Regions from separate parts of the Homo sapiens genome. Here all the other regions are linked to region 1. The links come from fine-mapping of genetic effects on gene expression. A gene starts in region 1. Each other region holds a variant in brackets. All regions are shown on one strand. Distances are from middle to middle.

The links.
Region 2: its variant is fine-mapped to the expression of RARG in whole blood (TOPMed, PIP 0.91).
Region 3: its variant is fine-mapped to the expression of RARG in whole blood (TOPMed, PIP above 0.99).

Annotation. Positions count from the first base shown.
Region 1 is chr12:53,231,028-53,233,784 of GRCh38, reverse strand. It overlaps RARG (retinoic acid receptor gamma), which reads left to right and starts at 1,576. Exons shown (of 10, transcript NM_000966.6): 1 at 1,576-1,811; 2 at 2,550-2,616. RefSeq lists silencers at 1,391-1,440, 1,761-1,890.
Region 2 is chr12:53,152,257-53,155,013 of GRCh38, reverse strand. It overlaps the pseudogene EIF4A1P4. Among named protein-coding and RNA genes, the nearest start is that of ZNF740, 27 kb to the left of the region's middle. The variant G/A (reference allele first, on the strand shown) is at 1,322.
Region 3 is chr12:53,210,506-53,213,262 of GRCh38, reverse strand. RARG (retinoic acid receptor gamma) reads left to right here. Exons shown (of 10, transcript NM_000966.6): 9 at 20-178; 10 at 1,400-2,694. The coding sequence ends at 1,587. Among named protein-coding and RNA genes, the nearest start is that of ITGB7, 4.6 kb to the right of the region's middle. The variant C/T (reference allele first, on the strand shown) is at 1,502.

The DNA of each region.
Region 1 (2,757 bases):
CCACACTGCTGAGAGCTGCTCCCAGGGTAACCAAGCAAAGTCAACAGCAGCTAGGCCACCTGGGGACGGGACCCTGGAGTATCTATTCCTAGCTCTTCCTATCCCTGGAGTGAAAGAGAGGGCTTGTCTGCACCCCCATTGCCATCTCCCATTCCCTGAGGTAACCACAGCATGCCTCTTCTTTCCCCCATCTCCTTCACCTGACTTTGGCTACCAAAAGCAGCCTTTCCCAGGAGGGAGGACACCTGGCCCCCAGGGGGGAGCAAGGACAAAGCCAAGTAATTCCAGTATGGAAAATGTGACGTGACCCAGGAGTCTGTGTCCCAGGTCCTGGTCACCCTGCGAGCATTGCTGGGGAAGGTACTTTGGGTATGTCTGTCCAGCCTATCAGCCTAGCTCAGACTCTCCCCTTCTCCTCTTTCTCCCTCCCAACTCCAGTCCCCATGGGAGTGTTTGGGATCCGTGCACAGAGCTTGGACTGCAGACCCATTCTTTTCTCTCCCTCTGTCCTCAGTAGAATGCAGAGTGAAACCACTGGGTTCTCTCACTCTAGGGTTGAGAGTCTGTCTATGTTGAAGCAGATAATGCCCCCATCAGACACAGACACTCACTCTCGGCACTGGCATGCGCACGCGCTTGCACAGACACACACACACACACACGCACACACACACACACCCGGAGTCAACAGCATTCATGGCACATCTACCAGGCAGGCAGGCAGGCAGGCCGGTGCTGGCTAGGGCAGACACACACCCTCTGCCTGGGCTTTCTCTCTCACACCCAGCCCAAGGCTCCTCCCACTCCCAGCCACAGTTCCTCCTGCCCTCCTCTCCAGCCTCTCCCCTTCCAAATCCAGGCCTAAAGGTGGGGGACAACTGGCAGCCAGGGACCCAGGCGCCCTAACTCCTGGAGCTTACTCCAGGCAAGATGACAGGGAAGATGTCTGTGAGCCCTGGCCTCAGCACCCCCAGCAACAGCCACTAGTCAACCAGTTTGCTCCTGGGACCAAAGGACTGAGGTGGGCTAGGGGAAGGGAGAGGCTACTTGGATCTGCAGGTGAAGGCTGAGCAAAGAGTAAGGGCAGGAGCATCTATTCTAGATCTGGCATACTCCTGCCCGGCCAATCCAGCACTGGGAGGGAGTGGGTACCGCCCCATTGCCTACCCTGGGGAGGCGCCAGAGACTGGCCTCGCAAGAGTCACAGCCTGGCCACAGACAACTCAACTAGTCCCCCCAAAAGGCAGAAAGGAGAAAAGTGCCAGAGAGAAAAGGTTGGCATCACGGGGCCAGGACACTGACCTCCTCTGCCAGCCGTGCCCGGCCTCCCAGAGGATGGAGTCACGGAAGCCTAGCAAATGGGAAGGGCAGAGACCCAGGCGTCCCGGGCCGCCCCGCCCAGTCCCCCTCCCGCCCACCCATCCCTCCGCCCCCCAGCCCCAGGGCACAGAGGAGGGAGCCGGGCAGGGGCAGGCAGGGGAGGGAGGAGCGAGGGCGGGAGGGGGAGGAGGGAGTTGGGCAGGGAGGGAGGTTGGGGGGGGGGTGGGGAGGGAGAAAAAGAAAGAAAATATTTTCCGTGTCCCCGCCTGCAGAGTCAGTGTGCGGTTTGGGAGAAAATGTGTCGGATATTTTGGGGCGGTCACGTGGGCGGGCGGGCTCCGAGAGGCCCCGGGACAGTCCCAGCCTAGAGCCGTGCCCCCCCAGGAGCCCCCCAGTACGGCGAGCCCCGGACATTGCGACGCTCCATCCAAGAGACTGCCCGACGCCGGGACCTCGGGGCTCCGCCGCCTCCCTTCCCCCTCCCACTCCAGGTGAGTCAGGCGGGGAAGCAGGCTCGCCCGCCCCGTCGCCTGGGTCCTCCGGCGAGGCGGCTGGGGGAGGGGGCGCGGAGGAGCTGCACGGGCGAATGCCCTCCCGAGGCTGGCCAGGCTGGCCGCCGGGCTTGAGGGGGGCTTCTTGCCCCGACCCAGGCCAGTCCTGCTGTGGGAAGGGAATGGGGAAGATTTTAACAGGCTGAGGATGGGCTGGGTCATCTGCCCTTCATTTTGGTGCATAGCAGAGGACAGCATTTGGGGAAGTCTTCAGCCAGGGGGCATTCCTCCTTATATTTTTGTGCTGGGAATGTGAGAGAAGACAGGGTTTCCTCTCGCGGGGAAAGACTACCACCCCCTTACCCCCGGGCTCTGAGGGGTAGATTTGATGTTCCATGCTGGTCCAAGTTCCTCCCTCCCCAGTGGAATGGGACAGCTTGGACATCAGAAGGCAAGGAAAACGTCCAGAGGCAAGTGAGCCTGGCCCTCCGCGTCCAGGAGTTCCGAAGGACTGGTGCATAGGATAGGGATCTGTGAACTTTCCTTGAAGCGCTGGATTCCCTCCCACACGTTCCCAGCCCAGGTGCGAGCCTTGGCTCCCTCCAGCCAAGGTGGGGGGCACCTCTGGAGTATTCTTGAGGGAAGCCCAAATGGAACAAAGAAAGAGCAGGAAGACCGGGACAGGGACCCAGGAGTGCTGGTCCCAGAGTTCCACTGACGCTGCCTCTCTGTCTTTAGCAGCTACGGCCCAGTTCCCTCAACCTGACCCAGTATGTAGAAGCCAGTCTCTGCAGGCGGCCAGCGGGTAAGAAGATGCTTGGTTGTTAGTGGTGGTGGGGGCAGGGGAGCCTGAGTAGGAGGTCTTCAGGGCAAGAAACTGAGATGACTGTCCCGCTTTAGGGCTCTGGTCCTGGGCAGCTGGAATCCCAATCCTCAAGTCTGAGGC
Region 2 (2,757 bases), 79 kb after region 1:
AAGGGCCAGGATTCTAGGCAGAGCCGCCACACCCAGCCAGTCACACAACTTGTAAGTGGTGGAGTCAGAAACTAAACTCAGACCATCTTATTCTGGTTCTTAACCATGGATCTGACCGGCTTCTGTTGACAGGTATATCTAATTCATAGGTGTGTCCGTTAGGACCGTACACCTTAATAGCCTTAGTAGCCTAACCTTAATAGCATAAATTATTAACCATGTGCTGTGGATCTACTACTTGCAGGAAGGTTGAGGCCATTTCCAGGTTTAGTCACCCATCTTGCCCTTGGCCTGGGGAAATGATATTTCCCTCAAATAGGAAAATAAAGGCATTGGAAACGCCTGAGTGGGTTGCAATGTTAGAGTGTTTTGTTTTGTTTTGTTTTTGCCTCAAAAAGTGACATTTATTCAAAGAAAAAAATGACAAGATGTCCATCCCTTGGCTCCCTTCCCTCCCCACTCCTGCTGCTCCTCAGCCCCCCGAGATAGAGCCCTGGCTGGGGCTGGGTGGCAGGACAGCCCCTCAGATGAGGTCAGCAACATTGAGGGGCATTTCCTCAATGGAGGAGTTGTAGAAGATCTCGATGTCTCGAAGAGTCCTCTTGTCTTCTTCTGTCACCACGTTAATAGCCACACCTTTACGGCCAAACCGTCCACCTCGACCGATTCTATGGATATGGTTTTCCCTGTTGGTGGGAAGGTCATAGTTGGTGACTAAAGAAACCTGTTGCACATCAATGCCTCTGGCCAGCAGGTCAGTGGTAATCAAAACTGCTAGAGCCATAACGAAACTCCCTCAAGATCACGTCTTGTTCGTTTTGGTCCATATCTCCACGAATGGTGAAGACAGTGAAATCTCGAGCATGCATCTTCTCGGTGAGCCAGTCCACCTTCCTCCGGGTGTTGATGAAGATGACTGCCTGGGGTGATGGTCAGGGTTTCATACAAGTCACATAGTGTGTCCAGCTTCCACTCCTCTCGTTCCAAATTGATGTAGAATTGGCGGATACCCTCCAAGGTCAACACTTCCTTCGTGACAAGAATCCGAATGAGGTCCCTCATGAACTTCTTGGTCACCTCAAGCACATCAGAAGGCATCGCAGCTGACAGCAAAACTACCTGGGTGTTGCTGTTGAGCTTTTGGAATATGTCATAGATCTGGTCCTTGAATCCACGGCTTAACATTTCGTCAGCTTCGTCCAGTACAAACATCTTGATGTATTTGGGAGACAGGTATCTCCCGTTAAGCATATCAAACACATGGCCAGGGGTACCCACAATGATGTGAGGAGCTTCGTCTGCAGTTTCTGCACCTCAGCAC[G/A]CATGTTGGTGCCCCTGATACAGGCATGACAGGAGGCACCCATGTAGTCTCCTAGTGCCATGACCACCTTCTGTATCTGCTGAGCCAATTCTTGAGTGGGTGCTAGGAGCAAGGCCTGGGTGGCTTTTAGATCTAATTCAATCTGCTGCAGAATCAATATGGCAAATGTGGCCATTTTCCCAGCCCCAGATTGGGCTTGAGCAATCACGTGATAACCCTTGATACAAGGTAGAATGGCTCGCTGCTGGATGGCAGACGGCTTCTCTAAACCATAGGCGTAGATGCCACGGAGAAGGGACTCTGAGAGGTTCATGTCATCAAAGCTGTCAACAATCTCATTCCAGTTACTCTCAATGACACCTTTGGGCTCCATCCCATTGGGGCCGTTGTCTCTGGATCAGGAATCCTGGCTCGCAGACATGATCCTTAGAAACTCTAGAATAGTTTTTTGTTGGCATTTGGTTTTGGTTTTGGTTTCGGTAAGAGCAAAAGGAATCAAAGTATCCTAGTCTCTAGGATCCAGGGACCAGCCTCCCCTTGACTGGGGAAGGAAGATGTTGCCCTTCACAGGGAGGAAGGCCGGGACCTGGGAAGGTCAGAAGCTGGATGGGGTACCTATGATGTCATAGCAGCTCTCTGAGGTTGAGAGTAAGAGCCCTTTTAAGAAAGTAGATAAATCCCAGCTACTCGGGAGGCTAAGGTAGGAGAATCGCTTGAACCTGGGAGGTGGAGGTTGTGGTGAGCCGAGATCGTGCCATTGCACCCCAGTCTGGGCAACAAGTGCGAAACTCTGTCTAAAAAAAAAAAAAGTAGATAAAAGAGAACAAGCTAAAGTCAGAATTCAACTGGCCACTTGGAACTGTCCTTATACACCCTAGTCCTCATTTGACTGTTTCTCTTCTGTTTATGTGCCTTTTAAAAACCTTTTTTATAGCATCCTTCAATAACTCAACTGGTACAGCAGAGGACTATAGTCAAAACCTTTTTATTCTGAAATAATTTCAAACTTATAGAAAAGTTGCATTCTTGTCATTATTCTTAGTTACAGAGACCTCCTATATATTCTTTACCCAGATTTATCCATTTCTCACATTTTGACAAATTTGCTTTGTCATTCTCTCTCTAAATGCATTATACTCATTTTTTTCTGAATCATGTGAGAGTCAGTGCATATATTATGACCCTTTATCTCTTAATACTATAATGCATATTTCTCAACAACAAGAATATTCTCTTAAATAATCATGGTACATGTTTAGACAGGTGTGGTGGTGCATGCCTGTAATCCCAGCTACTTGGGAGGCTGAGGCAGGAGAATCACTTGAACCCTGGAAGCGGAGGTTGCAGTGAGCTGAGATCATGCCACTGCACTCCAGCCTGGGCGACAGAGTGAGACTCCGTCTCAAAAAAAAAAAAAAAAAAAAATCATGGTACAG
Region 3 (2,757 bases), 21 kb after region 1:
AGTATACTTGTCCCCATAGACCGCATGGACCTGGAGGAGCCCGAAAAAGTGGACAAGCTGCAGGAGCCACTGCTGGAAGCCCTGAGGCTGTACGCCCGGCGCCGGCGGCCCAGCCAGCCCTACATGTTCCCAAGGATGCTAATGAAAATCACCGACCTCCGGGGCATCAGCACTAAGGGTGAGTCATGAGTGGGTGTCCCCTCTCTGTCTTCCCAGGGCTGTTGGTCTCCCAGGTCGGACAGGAGGACACACAGAGACAAGAACAGAGTAGTTGAGAACCAGGCAATCTACACTGGAATCCTAGCTCTGCCACATAGTAGTGGGAGACTTTGGGCAAATTGCTTCTAAACCAGTACTGTCCAGTAGAACTTTCTGCAATGATGGGAATACAATAGTCATTAGCCACATGTGGCTATTAAGCATCTGAAATGTGACTACTGCAACTGCAGAATTGAATTTTTAATTCAGCACAATTCCAAGTATGTGTGTGTGTGTGTGTGTGTGTGTGTGTGTGTGTGTGTGTGTATATATATATTTAGAGACAAAGTCTTGGGCAAATTGCTTTACTTTTTTAATCTTGTTTGTAAACTGGGCTATTCTTCACGTACCTTGTAACGCTGTCTTGAGGACTAAATTAGTTAATATACAATGTAAAGCCAGGCACCATGGTGCACATCTGTAGTTCCAGCTACTCAGGAGGCTGAGGCAGAAAGATCAGTTGAGGCCAGAAGTTGGAAGCTGCAGTGAGCTATGATTGTACCTGTGAATAGCCACTGCAGTCCAGCCTGGGTAACCCAGCAAGACCCTGCCTCTAAAACAACAACAACAACAACAACACAACAAAAAAAACCTGTAACATATACAGTGTACTTAGAATTGTGCTGAATTAAAAATTCCATTCTGCAGTTGCAGTAGTCACATTTCAGATTGCCACATGTGGCCAATGACTACTGTATTCCTATCATTGCAAAGTTCTATTGGACAGTCCAGGCTTAGAAGGATGTCTGGAACATAGTGTTTGATAAATATTAGCTGTGGTAATAAATGTTATTAAGAGAACAGGACTAGGAACAAGTGACAAGCTCTGGACATTCGAGAGTGGGGTACTTGGGGAGTGGGGTTGGAAGTTGTGTGCATTGCGCTCGCTGAAGAGACAGCCTGAAAGAATGGGATGAATGGGCAGCAAGCCTGGTAGAGAAGGCCAGGTAGAGGTTCCAGGCAGAGGAGTGGCACCCAGGAAGCCTAGTGAGAAGAGGATGAGCTGGGGACGGAGAGGTGGTGGGCCTGTGCTGGGCGCCCCCTAGGGGAGTCAGGGGCAGTTGAGAAAGGTTAGGGAGATGGCCTTAAGGGCCATGTGCCTCTGTCCTCCTGAGCCTCTCTCTTTCTCTCTCCATTGTAGGAGCTGAAAGGGCCATTACTCTGAAGATGGAGATTCCAGGCCCGATGCCTCCCTTAATCCGAGAGATGCTGGAGAACCCTGAAATGTTTGAGGATGACTCCT[C/T]GCAGCCTGGTCCCCACCCCAATGCCTCTAGCGAGGATGAGGTTCCTGGGGGCCAGGGCAAAGGGGGCCTGAAGTCCCCAGCCTGACCAGGGCCCCTGACCTCCCCGCTGTGGGGGTTGGGGCTTCAGGCAGCAGACTGACCATCTCCCAGACCGCCAGTGACTGGGGGAGGACCTGCTCTGCCCTCTCCCCACCCCTTCCAATGAGCTCCTTGTTTTTGCCAAAGTTTCTAGGGGTGCCTCTGTGTTCATCCCCTTCCTGATCTAACCGGCTCCCTCGCCAGTCCCGGGGGCCTGCCCTGCTCCCACCAGGAGAGAGGGCAAAGGGATGAGCCTGGGTTTGGACTCTAAAATCTCAGCACTGCCCCATGGGTCCTAGACTTCCCAGGGCAAGAGGAAGACCCTGCCATTCCACAGCCCCTTCCTCTGCCAGGTGCTTGGCTCTCTGAGAGCAAACAGGAACACTAGAGACCAAAAAGGGGACAAAGGAGAAGGGCTGAGCCCACCTTCTTGCTCCTACCCTTGGTGCCTAATGCTGTGTGATGCACCTGCAGGGTGTGTGCTAGCCTCTGTGCCCCGTCCTTGTGCCAGGTCAAGGTGGGGGCAGGCTGGGCCCTGCATTTCTGGGGCAGGAACAGAGGGTGAAAGGGACAGATAGATGCAGGTCCATTCTGCACCTCTTGGCTCGGGTGCAGAGTTCACCCTGTGCCCTCCGTTATAAGTCCCTCCCCCAGCCCTGTCATGTGCCTTGGGCTCCTCCTGCCCTCCATCTCAGCCATTGGGGCAGGGACCCTCCTACACTACAGAGGGGCCAGGGGATCCCTCTCTCCCTAGTGCCTTCCACCCTTTACTCCCCAGAGCAGCTTGGCCCAGGGAGGGGGGATGCTGCTTAGCTGATCCCGCCCTGACCCAGAGGAAGCCTCTATTTATTTATTAGCTTTTGTTTACACCGTGGAATTGACCCCTTCCTCCAGGGGTCTTGGGTGGGGGAGCCCAGGGCCCCTGTGACCCCTCCTTTCTTCCTCCAATCCCCAGTTTGTATTTAGCTGCCAAATAAGATTCCCATTGGCTCCCTGTGTTCTCTTGGGGGGTCAGGGTGCTGTCCCCTCCCCTCTGTTTACATCTCCCCTCTACCCCGCTGTATCGCATATTGCTGAGTTTTCTATTTTTGCAAAATAAAGTGATGGAAACTCATGAGATGTGGCTCCCTTTAGGAGGTGGTAGGGAAATGACCAGCTGACCTGGTGAGGGAGCTGA